Regions from separate parts of the Homo sapiens genome. Here region 1 is linked to region 2. A link means that fine-mapping ties the variant in region 2 to the expression of a gene that starts in the linked region. Tissue or cell type: esophagus mucosa. Region 2 holds a variant in brackets; the other region holds the start of a gene. All regions are shown on one strand. Distances are between the middles of the regions.

Region 1 (8,148 bases), 44 kb before region 2:
AAAAGTCCAGCAACACTAACATTAGCAAAGAAGAAAGGTCTAAAATCGGTGATCTAAACATCCACCATAAGAAGCTAGAAAAAGAAGAGTAAACTCAGAAGTAGAGGAATAAAAAGAATAGAGTGGAAACCCCAAGTGCAACATATCCCAGAAATGCAAGATTGGCTTAACATTAGAAAGGCAATCAGTGAAATACAACATATTAGCAGAATAAAGGAGAAAACTATATGATCATCACCATAGATGCAGATATGGCATTTAACAAAATTCAGTACTCATTCATGCTTCATTAAAAACAAAAAACTCGGCCAGGCGCGGTGGCTCACGCCTGTAATCCCAGCACTTTGGGACGCCGAGGCGGGTGGACCACGAGGTCAGGAGATCGAGACCATCCTGGCTGACACGGTGAAACCCCGTCTCTACTAAAAAACAAAAAATTAGCTGGGCATGGTGGCGGGCGCCTGTAGTCCCAGCTACTTGGGAGGCTGAGGCAGGAGAATGGCGTGAACCCGGGAGGCGGAGCTTGCGGTGAGCCGAGATCGCGCCACTGCACTCCGGCCTGGGCGACAGAGCGAGACTCCGTCTCAAAAAAAAAAAAAAAAAAAAAAAACAAAAAACCAAAAACACCAGAAAACTAGAAACAACAATAAAAGGAAACTTCCTTAATCCGATAGTTTCTATGAAAACCCCACAGCTAACATTATATAAATGATGATAAAAGGAAAGTTTTCTCCTAAGATCATAAGACAAGGATATCTGCTTCCACTTCTATTGAATAATGTACTGAGGCTCTAGCCGTTGCAGACAAGAGGGGGAAAAGATGATAAAGATCAGGAAGAAAAAAGCAAAACTTGTAGATGACATGATTATTTACAAAGAAACTCCTAAAGGAATCAACAAAACATGTACAACTGATGACTAAAGTAGCAAGGTTGAAGAATTCAAGTATTTTTGCAACAATCGTGTATTTTTATGGACTACAGCAAACAATTGAAAAGTAAAATTTTGAAATTCCATTTACAATAACATCAAAAGAATATAAAATACTTTAGAATGAATTTACAAGAGATGTGCAAAATCTCCATATGAAAACTTGGTTAAGAAACCCTAAATAAATAGAGGAATATACCTCTTTCATGAATTGTCAAGATGTTCTTCCCAAAATAGATCCAACACAATCCCAGAAATCAAGATCCCACAGCTTTTTGGAGGAAATTAAGCTGATTCTATGATTTTTTAGTGGAAGTGTAAAAGTTTTATAACATCCAAAGAATCTTGAAAAAGAAGAACAAAGTTAGAGGACTCAATTATAGTCCCACTAAAGACCTACTATAGAGCTATAAGTATGTAAATCCTGTGGTATTAGCATAAGGGTGGGCAAATAATGAACAAATTAAATTCCTGAAACTCAGGCATATTTATCTTTTCAACAAATAGCATTGGAATAACTGGAAATCCACCTGGACAAAATGACCTTTGACTCTTACCTCATACCATAAGGAAACAAACTTAAATGGATCGTAGACCCAAATATAAAAGTGTGGGGAGACAGAAAACCTATGCAACCTTGAAGGAGGTAATGATTTCTCAAAGGGCACCAAACATACAGAAAACATATTTAAGAAAATAAATAGGCAAATCAGAGTTAGAAAATATTTGCAAGATATGTATCTGAGAAAGTACTCGTATCCTGCATATATAAAGGATCTCTATAATTCAGTAACAGAGAAACTAATTTTTTAAGTGGGCAAAATATTTCAACAGAAAATTCACAAGAGAAGGTACACAAGTGGCCAGCAAGCGCATTAGACATCAGGGAAATGCAAATTAAAACCACAGTGAGATATCGCTACATCCACCAGTATTTTTAGACATCAGGGAAATGCAAATTAAAACCACAGTGAGATATTGCTACATCCACCAGTAGTTTTAAAATTAAAATGACTGATACTGCCAAATGTTGACAAAGATACGGAGCATCCAGAACTAGTGTACACTGTCAGTACAGCTGCTTTGGGAAAATGTCGGGCAGTTTCTCATAAAGCAAAATACATACCTACCCTATGACCCAGCAATTCCGCTCCTAGGTCTTTACGTAAGAGATATGAAAACATATGTCTACATAGTTGTACAAGAATGTTCCTAACAGTTTTATTTATGATGACCAAAATTTTCTAACAGTTCTCCTTTCTATCAATAGGAGGAGAATGAATAAACAAACTATGGTATACCCAAACAATGAAAAACTAGCAATAAAGAGGAAGGAATTACTAAGACATATAACATGGGTAAATCTCAAAAACATAATGTTTTCCACCAAAGAGTACATACCGGCATGATTCCATTTATATGGAGATTTAGAACAAAAAAACAGTTCTATAAAAGCGAAAGTAATCGATGGTAGAAAAATTCTGAACAGTGGTTTTCTCTGGAGGAATGTGGGTAGGGAGTTACAGGGAAGGGACTTAGGGGGACCCTGTTGGTGATGTTTGGCTGGTAGGTTGGATAGGTGATTTGCAGAGGTGTACCCATTTGTCAGAACTCACCTAATGATACACTTAAGATTTGTGCATTTCATTGTATGTAAATTTTATCCGAAAAGGAAAAAAATTCTGCAAGTAAATATTGAACCCTACGTAGTGATATGCAGGCAGAAGTACTGGGGATGAGGGCGGAAGTGTACCAAGCTCTGCAACTTACTCTGAAATGCATCCAAACAAGATGGGTTGATGGATGGACAGAGGGACGGGTAGATATCTAATAAATCAAGTATAGTAACATGTTAATTGTAGAATCTAGGTGGTGGGTATACGGGTGTTCACTGTAAAATTCAACTTTTTAGAATGTTTGAAATTTTTCATAATAAAATGGATTTAAAAGGTAATTGCAGTACTCACCCTGGGTGTATACACATGCACCCATTCTCGCGATGCCCCTAAAGCTCTTGCCCCTCAGAAGGCTAGATGAAAGAGGGGCATTGGGGAGTGAGTAACAGAGCCGAGAGGACTGCTAACAGCACCAGGGTTTCTGATGAAAATGCACTCGCCAGAGCTGTGTTTCTTTATTCGAAATCACACGGTTTTACTCAACAGGGCTCCTAGCCCTTCTGTCTCTGCTCCTGGTGCGTAAGGGCGGTGTGTGGGGCTCTGCGCCTGAAACCGCTCTCTCGGAAGGTGGGAAGATGCCCACGTATCCATTCCTCTCCGCGTACAGATTCGCTCCCACACGCCCGGGCGGGTGATTCCGGAGGGCCGCGCGGGGCTGTGTGCGCGGGCGGGGGCGGGATGTGTCTGGAGGGGGCAGAGCGCCCTCTCCCGGCCCCGGAGGGCCCACGCGGACCGGCTGAGCGTCCCACCAGCCGGTTCTGCATCCACTACCCAGATCTGCGCGCCCTGGTGGGAGCACCGCAGCCCCGGGTCGGCCCTTCGAACGCCGAGCGTCTACCCGCGGAGACCAGCGCAGGAGGCGGGCCCGCGCGCAAGGAGGCGGGCGACAGGGTGGAGTCGCCGCAGCTGGCAGCCGCACGGCTCTACCTGTTGCAGCGTCGGAGCGCGCCCGCCTGAGAAGGCAGAGCGCGGTGCGGACCTGTGCTCCGCGCGCCGGCTGGCAGGGCAGGGCCGCGGCTGCCAGGAGGCCCGGGAACAGTCCCGACGGAGCGGCGCGGAGAGGGCGCTCCCCGGAAGGTGAGATCTGAGCGCGGCAGCGGCGCCAGCGCCCGCTACAAGGCGGGGTCTCGGGGAGGGGGCCCCGGCGGTTTGCTGGAGAGCCTTGCTACTGTTCTGCATGAGGTGGGGGATGCCTTCTGCGCGGACCCCGCGTCCAGGCAAAACTCTGGAACGCACTAGGCAGCCAAGCCCGGGGGGAAGAGATGGAACGCTCCAAGGTCAAGGTCTCCTGGCCGCGGAGCCCTTCCAGCCCCCAGTGTTTGGCCTCCTCTCCGGAAGCGGGGCTGGCTCGCGGTGCGCGCTTGGTCCGGGCGGAGCCTACTAGTAGGCGCAGAGGACGCCCCCGCGCAGGATCCAGAGACCAAGGGCGCTCTGGCATGGTCAAGGCGAGGGAGGCTGCCCGGGGGAGAAGCCCCTAACTTCCTTTGCTCCCTGTTCCAACCTCCCTTTCTGGTCTCCTCTCTCCAGCCCGTCCGCCCAACGGATGCGCAGCGTTGGGGCCCGGCCGGAGGTCGGAGCCCTCGGACGCCGCAGCCCTCGGACGCCGCTCAGCACAGCCCCTCTCTCCGTGCGCCCGCCCTGGACCCCCTCCATCCCTAAGCCCCGGCAGCCGATTCGGAGACTCGGGAGGCCACAGGCTCAGCGCGACACCACGACCACAACTAGGAGGCACCATCGTCGATCTACCTGGGGAGGCACCTACAAAGCCAGCAGACTGACACCCGTGTCCTAGCCGTCGGCGGCCTGCGAAGCGATAGTCAAAGGAACCAGGACCCAGGACCCCGGCGCTCTGCTTACCCGCAGACCTCCGGACCGCGCCCCCCCCCCGCCGCCCCGCCCCGCCCCGCCCCGCCCCGCGACCGTCTCTTTGCGGGAAACTCGAGTTGGCTCGAGCTTGCCCTGAAGACGCGCCACGCCCCCTCCCCTATCTGAGCCGGACAGGGAGCCGGGGTGGAAACTGCGCCCGCATCCCAGCGCCAAGCAGACGTGAACTCTGCGCCCGTTCCCCGGGACCTTCAGCGTTAAGGAGAACTCCGAGGAGAGCAGGGGGAGTGGAGGGGAACGGCGGCGACAAAGCGGATTTGAAACTAGGAGTCAAGGAGGACGTGGGGAGCTGGCGCCACAGGAGCTACCGAGGCGGCGGCCGGGGGAGCCTCGCGGCCTGCGGGAGAGCCCGGCGGTCATGGGCGAGCCGGCGGTGGGGCGCCCGGGAGCTGGCTGAGCGCCGGGGCCCTTATTTCCCGGGGGTGTGGGCGAGACTCCGCCGACGCCCGGTGCCGTGGGCCTGGGGGCTGCCCCCGGGGGCCCGGCCATGGCTGGCCGGGGTTTCAGCTGGGGCCCGGGCCACCTGAACGAGGACAACGCGCGCTTTCTGCTGCTGGCCGCGCTCATCGTGCTCTACCTGCTGGGCGGCGCCGCCGTCTTCTCCGCGCTGGAGCTGGCGCACGAGCGCCAGGCCAAGCAGCGCTGGGAGGAGCGCCTGGCCAACTTCAGCCGCGGCCACAACCTGAGCCGCGACGAGCTGCGCGGCTTCCTCCGCCACTACGAGGAGGCCACTCGGGCCGGCATCCGCGTGGACAACGTCCGCCCGCGCTGGGACTTCACCGGCGCCTTCTACTTCGTGGGCACCGTCGTTTCCACCATAGGTAAGTGTGCTGGCCGGACTCGCTGACAACCTCCGGGCGGCCTCCACTTCCTCCGGGGGGCAGGACCGACCCTCTCATCCTTTCATTCATCCATCTGGGCGCCCAGCCAGACTCCACTGACATGAGCTGTCGCCTGATCAACAGGTGGTATTGCCTCCCCGCTGCTCTAATGTGGTCCAGGCACCGGCAGCTTCAGCGTCACCTGGCAGCTTGTTAGAAATGCAGTCTCAGTCCCCTCTGCAGACCTGCCGAGTCAGAATCTGCATGTTAACAAAGTCCCCAAAGGATTGGAATGATCCTTAAATTGGAGACGCTCTGCTCTGGGAGATTTTCAGTCTAATGAAGGAGACACGGCTTGAGTTCATGGGGAAGAAGGCTTTTACAGATAGGGACAGGAAACTAAACATTTACTGAGTCAGTCAGAGGGGAAGTGCAGATTTTAAAAGATTCTGCCCTCGACTTCACACTTACCGAGAAAAAATCAGAACAGCAGACTGAAAGTGAGGAAGCAAAAGTGCCAATGACGGTTCAAAAGATGGAAAATTTTCCACCAGGAAGAACCAGGGAAGTGACCTTTGGGCTGAATCAATTCGTGTTAGGCATAACTTGGGTTTGGGAACTGAAAGCGCGGTTGCACTCTAGAGTAGGAGAGAATCGCACTCAGGGGCCCCATGAGCTGGTTGGAGTGGTGGAAGGAAGACTAGGAAGGTCTGCTGGCTAATGGGATGGAGGCGGGGGTAGGACCTTCACTGACAGACTGAGGAGCTGGAATTTACCTAGAGGCACCTGGGAGCCATTGAGAATTTTTTAGCAAAGATGTAGCACAGCTACAATCAGCTGTGTTTATTTCCCAGCAGAAGGAAAATGATTTGGGGGAGTCTGCGCCACACCCCTAAAGATTGTTCATCCTTGAAGAATAATCAAGTGATTAATGGGGGTTAGGGAAGATGCTGTAGAAATAAATTCTGAGGGGGGCAAAAAGAGACCTGGAGCAGGGGAGGGAGGTTGGAAGAGTTAGACGGAGAGGAAGTGGCCTCCAAGCTGCAAAAAAGGCTGGCAGTTGCAAACAGCCCAGGGTGCATGTGCTGAGCGCTCTGTAGCTACTGCCCCTGTGCACTCTAGAAGAGCTCGCTGGTGAGGTGGGGCGACAAGTTGAGCCTCCTTGAGGCTCCCACACATGGCTGTGCTACATAGACATTCTGCCAGGAGAAGCAGCACAAAAGACAAAAGAGATTGGCTTCAGGTCAGATTCATCATGAAAGACTTCCCAGGGCTAGTCCAGGAATCCAGGGCTTCAGCTGATGCACAGGAGGCGAGGCAGAGGACCAGTATGATTAGGGACACACCGGCTGTATCTGAAGTGCCTGGCTCCCAGCCCCCATCCCATCCCAGATGGTGCGGCCCATCAGCAGGCCATGATGGCACCACCATAACTGGGTATCAGGCAGGAAACCTTGCAGCAGACCAGAATGGGCCCAAGATTGGTGAAGGAGGAATAACACCCCCATGGTTCTCCCCCTGAGCCCACACTATCTGCTGGACTCTTAGCCGTGTTCCACAAGCCCCTCCTCACATCACCTCCCACGTCCCAGAAGACAGTTCCAGAATCTCCACATAGGCAAGACTTGGGATGAACAAACTGATTAGGAGGTGTCACTTTGGAAGTGACCTTGACTCTACTGTGTTTGCATAGCAAGTACAGGATTTTTTTAGATTGAATGGTAACTTAGGGTGGTTTTGATGGGAGATTTGATGGCTGAATCTTTCCCACCACCATGAAAAACCATCTCTTGGTGCTCCCAGTGGGCACAGAGGCAGGAAGGAGCAGAGTGTGTGTGTGGACAGGTGCATCCATGTAGCAGGAACTGAGAGTGGCATGGGTAGGTGGCCATATAGGAACATGGGCTTTGGGGATACGAATATGACAATGTGGCATGGAGGAGTGGAAAGAAACCTGGACAAAGAGTCTGGAGTGGGAGCTTTTCATCCTGCCTCTGTATCTTGGGCAAGCCTCTTAACTATTCCGAGCCCCATCCTTTTCTCATCTGAGGCATCTACAGAGTGCCCACCTTGGTATCTGGCACATCAGCTATTTGGTGAATATTAGTCCTGCCCCCTGCTCCCTCCGTCTGCGTAAGCCTGCCCCTGTCACAGGGTTCTTGTGAGGGACAATGAGCTCTTGTAAGTGCGTGCGTGTTAAAAGGTAAAAAACATGATGTCAGTGTGGGCTGATTTTTATTTCTCATTTGTAACATTTCCTTTTAAATTGTTTCACTAATTGTTGTAATAACAGCACTGGCTAACCTTTATCAGGCCCGTATTAGGCACATACTGTATGATTATTATGTGAATGTGCAATGCAGCTCATTGCTGTGTGACATTCACACTTCATTTCAGCCAACACAACTCCATGAGGTAGGCATAACACTCCCCCGTTATAGATGAAAAAGCTGAAGGTTCAGGTTTTTTGTAAAATAAAGTATAAAGAAGAAAAAAATCAAGTTATATGCAGTAATATCATCCAAATTAACCACTGTTCATGTTTTGGTCCATTTTCTTCTGGTCTCCTTTTTCCTCTGCGTATACTTATATACATATGCATTTTTAAAAATTAGAATTATATTCTATAAACCACTCATATCTTGCATTTTTATTGTAACATTACATGATGGTGTTTTTCCTCTAAAAATTAATTCCACCATGCTTTATTCTGCAAAGACTTTGAGGTAGCAGACAAAGTATACAGGAAAATAATCATAAAATACAAATAAAACTTCAGAACCAGGGAAAAGAAGAACAGAAATACGGGATGCAAGTGGAGCTACGAAGTTGCTAGA
Region 2 (8,197 bases):
AGAGACAGAGTTTCACTATGTTGCCCAGGCTGGTCTTGAACTCTAGGGCTCAAGCAATCCTCCCACCTCAGCCTCCCAAAGTGCTGGAGTTACAGGTGTGAGCCACCGTGCCTGGCCAGCACGAGATATTTGAGTCAAGCAGATGCTTCCACGTGCTTTGCAACTAAGGAGGTTGCAGTATATGATGGAATTATGTCATTCGAGGTACTTCAATCCCCTGTTCAGTTTCTCAGTCTGTAACATGGGCTGATAATAATCACACCTCAGAGTTGTTCTGAGGAGTAGACCAGGTGACGTAGGCAGGGTGTTTGGAACCATGTCTGCTTCACAGTGAGCACAAAATACTCACTGTTGCCCTTGTTGTTCAGTCTCTCTCTGAAATCGCTTCTGGCACCAAATGGGCAGGAGATTTGATTTCTCTGAAATCTTGATCTGAAGTCCCAGCACGTCTCCACTCATATCTTGTCCCGGACCAGAGTGTTGTCCTCGTATGGCAAAACCAATACTTAGACGAGGGGGCAGGGGCATCACATTCAGAAATTCTCCCATGGGGTGCAACGCAGGAGAGGGATACAAGACTACAAATTGGGTTCAGGGTATGCTGCTCTGGTGATGGGTGCACCAAAATCTCACCAGTTGGCCGGGTGTGGTGGTATAATCCCAGCACTTTGGTAGGCCCAGGCAGATGGATTGCCTGAGCTCAGGAGTTTGAAACCACCCTGCGCAACATGGTGAAACCCCATCTCTACTAAAATACAAAAAAATTAGCTAGGTGTGGTGGCGTGCTCCTGTAATCCCAGCTACTCGGGAGGCTGAGGCAGGAGAACTGCTTGAACCCAGGAGGTGGAGGTTGCAATGAGCTAAGATCGTACCACTGCACTCCAGCCTGGGCAACAGAGTGAGACTCCGTCTCCAAAAAAAAAAAAAAAAAAAAAACCTCACAAGTCACCGCTAAAGAACTTCCTCATGTAACCAAATACCACCTGTTCCCCCGAAAACCTATGGAAATATTTTCTTTTTTTTTTAAACGGAGTTTTGCTCTCGTTGCCCAGGTTGGAGTGCAATGGCGCGAACTTGGCTCACTGCAACCTCTGCCTCCCAGGTTCAAGCGATTCTCCTGCCTCAGCCTCCCAAGTAGCTGGGATTACAGGCATGTGCTACCACACCCGGCTAATTTTATATTTTTAGTAGAGATGGGATTTCTCCATGTTGGCCAGGCTGGTCTCGAGCTCCCGACCTCAGGTGATCCACCTACCTTGGCCTCCCAAAGTGCTGGGATTATGGGCATGAGCCAACGTGCCCAGCCAGAAATAAAAAATTTTTAAAAAGAAATCCCCCCATTGAAATGGACTCCTTCAGATCTATACGGGCTCCAGGAATTCCCTTTAAGGCAGAATGTACAGCTGTGATGTAGAGCTGGTAACAACACCAGCCAGCATACAGAAAGCTCACTGGCTGCAGATTCAGTTCATAACTCTCCCATCAACTATAGTATCTTCATTAATTGATGTAAAATTGAAGCTTAGAAGAATCAAGTAAGAATCTTGCCTGTGCTGCAATGCTGGGTGGCAAAGGCAGGATTTGATCCCAGATGATTGGACTCTAGCACCCATCATCTCAATCCCTACCCTATGCAGCCACCTTCAGGATGTTGTCTTCTCTCCTGTTGCCTTCCTGGTTATTGGGAGTCAATGACACGGAGAGTAGAGTCTCTCCCATGACCCCCTATGAAATTCCTCCCATTATTCCTCATAGCCTTTGGGAAGTGCTTTTCCGCAGAGCTTCTCAGTCAGTATGGCTGTGCTGTCTCAGATGTTAACACTGACTTTCTGTCTCCCTGTGGGTTGCTGTCTTCCAGTTGAGTTGCCAAGCTTTCATCTGAGATATTAGACATTAGATTTGGGGGAATTTTAGTTCTGTTAACATTCTGGGATTTTTTTCCTCCAACTTTTATTTTAGATACAGGAGGTACATGTGCAGGTTTGTTACATGGGTGTATTGTACTCAGGTAATAAGCATTATACCCAGTAGGTAGTTTTTCAACCCATGCCTCCCTCCATCCCTGCTCTAGTAGTCTGCAGTATCTGTTATTCCCATGTTTATGTCTGTGGACGCTCAATGTTTAGCTCCCACTTATAAGTGAGAACATGCAGTATTTGGCTTTCTGTTCCTGTGTTATACACTTAGGATTATGACTGCCAGCTCCATCCACATTGCTGCAAAGGACATAATTTTGTCCTTTTTTAAGGCTGCATAATATTCCATGTTGTATATGTATAATACCACATTGTCTTAATCCAATCCACTGTTGATGGGCACCTAGGTTGATTCTATGTCTTTGTTATTGTGACTAGCAAGGTGAGGAACATACCAGTGCATTTATCTCTTTTGAAAAATGATCTGTTTTCCTTTGATATATACCTAGGAATAGGATTTCTGGATCAAACGGTAACTCTAAGTTCTTTGAGAAATCTCCAAACTGCTTTCCACAGTGGCCAAAATTACTTACATTCCCACCAATAGTGTACAAGTGTTCCCGTTTCTCTGCAGCCTCGCCAGCATCTGTGGGATTTTAAGGGCAATCTGAGTTATTTTATCTAGGACCTTTTCCCATGAAAAATAATGCAGGTATTTTTGGAGATTCAAACACACATAAAACTAGGGCATCCTGTCCACCCCAGGGAGACAGACAGGTTTTCTTTTCTTGGGGGACGGAGTTTCGCTCTTGTCAGCTGTAATGCAATGGCGTGATCTTAGCTCACTGCAACCTCCACCTCCCGAGTTCAAGCGATTCTCCTGCCTCAGCCTCCCGAGTAGCTGGGATTATAGGCTCCCACTACCTTCCCCGGCTAATTTTTGTATTTTTAGTAGAGACGGGGTTTCACCATGTTAACCAGGCTGGTCTCAAACCCGGGACCTTAGGTGATCTGCCTGCCTTGGCCTCCCAAAGTGCTGGGATTACAGGCGTGAGTCACTGCACCAGGCCCAGACAGTTTTTTGTTGTTGTTGTTTCTCTCTCTCTCCTGGACCAGAGAGATCTCTAAGTGTATCTCCTACCTCTAAAGACTTTGCCCTTTCAGCTTCCATTCTCAGCAGCTCAGTGAGACATGGGCCATACCCAGATGTATAAGATCAGTCTCTAGGCTTCCTGAAGACCCTGTCTTTCCTCTTCACATTCCTGTTGGGCAGGAGTCAACTTCTCTTGTCTCTTTTTCTCTCCTGATCTTACCCTTTTCTGAAAACTCACTCATCTCGCTCCTCTACTCAATTTTCCTTTGACATGAATTTTTCTCTTCTCAGCCGAGCCTCCTAATCTTGTTCTTCCTCAAGGACACCTTGGAATAAAAGCCTGGCATGTCCCTGAGTGCCTCCTCCTCCTGTGAATGCCTTTTGGCCCCTCCCTGCATTCTTGTTGGGTGTCAGGAACTGCGTGGTTTCTGGGCCTTCTCTCCAGACCCCTTTTCCCCTCCTAAAACAGTAACATCTTTGAAATCTATGATCATATAGGCCATTCTTTGATGAGTTTCTGGAAACCTCACTGAGAACACATTGTCTGGAGACCATTTTCTCTCTTGGCACAGCAGCACCCAGAAGGCAATAAGACACCTTGTCCCTGTCACACATACATTCCTATCTTTGGGGACTCTTGGGATTTGCTTGATAATAGTATCTTTTTTATGTCTTTGAAGGCTTTGTGTGATCACTTGATGAATCCTGCCAGAATTGTCTCACAAAGGTGATGTGCATTCTGTTTCTTTCCTGGGCCACATATCCTCCTGGGATGGTCAGATTAAGCCCAAGGGAGACGCCATCCTACCCAGGTTGGGCAAGGAAGGTGGAAGAGTCTCGGGGGTCCCTTTCCATATGAGGTGTCACTGTCTTGAACTTGGGGATCAGCTACTTTCTTTTCTTTTCTTTTTTTTTTTTTTTTTTGAGAGAGTCTCACACTGTCACCCAGGCTGGAGTGCAGTGGCACGATCTTGGCTCACTGCAACCTCTACCTCCCAGGTTCAAGCAATCCTCCTGCCTCAGCATCCCGAGTAGCTGGGATTACAGGCATGCACCACCATGCCTGGCTAATTTTTTGTTTTTCAGTAGAGATGGGGTTTCACCATGTTGGCCAGGCTGGTCTCAAACTCCTGACCTCCAGTGATCTTCACGCCTCAACCTCCCAAAGTGCTAGGATTACAGGCATGAGCCACCAGCCAGGATCAGCTACTTTCCAACTCCATTTTGCTACGTTAGGTAAATGGGTTACATAAATAGGGTGAGGTTGGGTCCATCCATCCATCCAAGGCATTCAGCAGCACCGTGTCTCTCATTCACGCTGGTCTCCTGTCTCCTGATTGTCCAAGCTTGTTTCTGCTTTAGGCCCTTTTCTTCTCTCAGCCCTTTTTTCTCTCAGCTTTTTATAAAA[C/T]TGGGTCCCCATCTTCAGCCGCACCTGAAGACATGAGATCTTCTCTCACCCCCTTGGTGAAGTAGTCCTCACCTCATTTATTCCCTCTAGAGTCCTCGCCTGAAATCACAGATGTTAGAGGAAAAAGGGGTCCCTTGACTTTAATATACAGGATAAATCAAGTGACAGAACAACCAACGTTGGAGCAACCCAAGTTTTTATACAGTTGATGGGGACATTCTGTGTATGGAAACTAAGTACCACCAACCCTGTGGCCCTGGATTGTGGTCGTTGAGGGTACTAGGGTACTCATGGGTTAGAGTCCCAAGCTTTGAGTCTTTAACTACAAAATCCATTGTCTCCCCAAATCAAGGAAGTTGTTTTTTTTTTTCCTTTTGGCCATTTTTCTTGAAGGCCCTTGAATCCAACTCTAAACAGACAAGGACAGGCAGCAATTTGTGTCCAAAGAGAGCCAGGCACAAGGGATCTGTTTATTTTATAGCTGTAATTTCTGCATACGAAAGAAAAGGTCCTAGGTTAAAAATAATAATAACAGTCCGACAAAGGTTTTGTGCTTCCTAGTAAGACGGCATGATGTTCCAAATCATTGTCCAGGCCTTGGCAAAAGCAGGGGCATAGAAGGAGGTTTTCTGTGGAGACAAGGAGCCCTCCAGAGACTTGGGCAGGCTGAGCCGGCAGTGCTGGTGGCAGGAGGCCAAGTCCTGGTTGGGTCTGAATTCATGGCTGTCTGGTTCTTCTGAAACTAGTTATCCCTGTGACCTTGGGCATTCCATCTCCCTGGGTTTCAAGGCCTTTGAAAAATGAGGTGATTCAATCAGAATAGTTCTGCTCAACTCCTATAATACCTGCTAACTCCCTTTTTATGTCAAAAATAATTTAGGAGCTCGGTGCCATAAGGCCTCACAGTAAACACAGAACTTCTGAAGAGATCTCATTTTGACATACTCTACCATCTGAAATGTTTTGCACATCACATACTAATATGCAAAATAAGAAAGGTCCTGGGCGCAGTGGCTCACACGTGTAATACCAGCACTTTGGGAGGCTGAGGCAGGTGGATCACCTGAGGTCAGGAGTTCGAGACCAGCCTGGCCAACATGGTGAAACCCTGTCTCTACTAAAAATACAAAAATTAGCCAGGCATGGTGGCTCATGCCTGTAATTCCAGCTACTCAGGAGGCTGAGGCATGAGAATCATTTGAACTCAGGAAGCAGAGCTTGCAGTGAGCTGAGATCTCGCCACTGCATTCCACCCTGGGTGACAGAGTGAGACTATGTCTTCAAAAAAAAAAATTTATGATACTATCATGAAATTTTATAAATATTTATTATCCTGAAATGAAATTTTATAGATAAAATAAACTATACATATATTTTAGAAAGACATTATACTGCCCTAATTATAAAAGAATAAACAACAGAAAACATTTATAGTAAAATAATATAGGCTGGGTGCAGTGGCTCATACCTGTAATCCCAGCACTTTGGGAGGCCAAGGTGCATGGATTGTTTGAGGCCAGGAGTTCCAGACCAGCCTGGCCAACATGGCGAAACCCCGTCTCTACTAAAAATACAAAAATTAGCTGGGAGTAGTGGTGCACGCCTAGTCCAAGCTACTCCAGGAGGCTGAGGCAGGAGAATCGCTTGAATCCGGGAGGCAGAGGTTGCAGTGAGCTGAGATCGCACCACTGCACCCCAGCCTGGGAGACAGACTGAGACTCCATCTCAAAAAAAAGAAAGTACATAAATATATAAATGCTAGAGTCTGACTATAATGAAGCGCTCGGGTGTTTGTACCTGCGGGTAGGCTGACACAGGTGCTCTGTACCACACACCACCGCTTTACTGTCCATGATGAGATTGCCTGAGATGGTGCACATTTGGTTACTCTTAAAGTACATGTTGGCCGGGCATGGTGGCTCATGCCTGTAATCCCAGCACTTCGGGAGGCCAAGGTGGGCAGATCACGAGGTCAGGAGATTGAGACCATCCTGGCTAACATGGTGAAACCCCATCTCTACTAAAATAGAAAAAATTAGCCAGGCGTGGTGGCGGGCGCCTGTAGTCCCAGCTACTTGGGAGGCTGAGGCAGGAGAATGGCGTGAACCTGGGAGGCAGAACTTACGGTGAGCCGAGATGGCACCACTGCCCTTCGGCCTGGGCGACAGTGTGAGACTCCGTCTCAAAAAAATATATATATATACATGTTGAGCCTTCCCTCAACTTATAGGGCAGTTGCCTGCCTGGAAATTTCAGTAAACATTACGATTGTGCAAAAGTAAAGAGTGTGTTTATTTGTAAAACAAGAATTAGGTTTGGCTCAATACTCATGCAATACCTACAACTGAGGATTCTTCCCAGGGGGACCGCAGCCTGTCAGCATGGCTCAAGAGTGTGGGAACTACAAAATCCAGCCTGGGAAGGTGGTTGTGTTCATCAAGCCCACCTTCCCATTCTGCAGGAGGACCCAAGAGATCCTCAGTCAACTGCCCATCAAACAAGGGCTTCTGGAATTTGTCGAGATCACAACCACCAACCACACTAACAAGATTCAAGATTATTTGGAACAGCTCACGGGAGCAAGAATGGGGCCTTGAGTCTTTATCAGTAAAGATTGTATAGGCAGATGCAGTGATCTAGTCACTATGCAATAGAGTGGGGAACTGCTGACGCGGCTAAAGCAGATTGGAGTTTTGCAGTAACCACAGAGCAGGCCACACGCTGACTTTCCTCCTCAAGAGCTGGATGGCATTGCATGTGATGACAGCACTTCCTGGTGGATGAATTTGGGGGGCACAAACAGCTTTTTTCTTCTTTTGCCTCAGTATTTAAAAGTGGATCAACTTGCTCTTGACCACGGGGCCAAGAAGGTTGATGGGCCATCTTGGTTTTCTTCTTGATGTGCTCTTTGGTTTTCAGAAGATTGTGACAAGTTCTGGCCTAGGATTCGCTCACTCACCCTCAATTGTTCTTTCTCTTTGGCACGCGTTTCTTACTGTTCTCCACGTGTCGGCATGCCTCTGCCTCTAAGCCAGTGTTTTTCAACTATGTTTCTACAGACTCCTTCTCCACAATGATGAATCCTTGGTTGGTTTTCTGCTACTGCCCATTAGCTGAAATCATTTTTCCTCTTGACTTTGTGGAGTTGGTGTTATGAAATCAGTGGGTATTTTGAATGTGTTCTTTCAAACGACTGCATCTCTCCGGAGACACAACCCCACCCCATCCCATCCCACCTTGAGAATCACTGCTCTGAACCAGTGTTGTCCACCTTGTCCTCTCACAGATCTCATAGGAAATGTTCAACAATTCTGTGAAAGCTCTCAGGACTCAACTGGAGAAATCATATGAAAAGTTAAGCATAGTTGGTCTTGCTGTCATATGGATCAGAGGCACAAGTGCAGAGGCTGTGGTCGTGTAGAACACTCTGTTATTTAAGATGGCCATCCAGATAATCCTGAACACTGTGTATTTATTTGATTTAGAGTACCAGCAAAAATTAAAGCACAAAATGTAAAACATTGAGAAAACTTACAGCCCCCTACCCTAAGAGTGTATCTCTGAAAGAGCCCCCAATGCTTTGAAAACTAAGAATCCCTTGGGCCAGGCGCAGTGGCTGACGCCTGTAATCCCAGCACTTTGGGAGGCCGAGGCAGGCAGATCACGAGGTCAGGAGATCGAGACCATCCTGGCTAACACGGTGAAACCCCGTCTCTACTAAAAATACAAAAATATTAGCCGGGCATGGTGGCAGGCGCCTGTAGTCCCAGCTACTCGGGA

Direction of the effects. Positions count from the first base shown, and alleles are read on the strand shown. Sizes are in standard deviations (SD) of each study's normalised expression.
As copies of C replace T in region 2, the expression in esophagus mucosa of the gene that starts at base 4,766 in region 1 goes down (moderate effect, 0.51 SD a copy in GTEx).

What was found. PIP is the estimated chance that this variant, and not a neighbour inherited with it, causes the effect.
Region 1: it holds the start of KCNK13, and the variant in region 2 is fine-mapped to the expression of KCNK13 in esophagus mucosa (GTEx, PIP 0.92).

What each region holds. Positions count from the first base shown.
Region 1 is chr14:90,057,229-90,065,376 of GRCh38, forward strand. It overlaps KCNK13 (potassium two pore domain channel subfamily K member 13), which reads left to right and starts at 4,766. Exons shown (of 2, transcript NM_022054.4): 1 at 4,766-5,311. The coding sequence starts at 4,978. It overlaps LOC124903406, which reads left to right. Exons shown (of 3, transcript XM_047432048.1): 2 at 3,174-3,683; 3 at 4,134-4,505. The coding sequence ends at 4,398. RefSeq lists a silencer at 3,069-3,458 and enhancers at 3,707-4,208, 4,209-4,708.
Region 2 is chr14:90,100,877-90,109,073 of GRCh38, forward strand. The region is part of intron 1 of KCNK13 (potassium two pore domain channel subfamily K member 13); the gene reads left to right. It also overlaps the pseudogene GLRXP2. Among named protein-coding and RNA genes, the nearest start is that of KCNK13, 43 kb to the left of the region's middle. The variant C/T (reference allele first, on the strand shown) is at 4,418.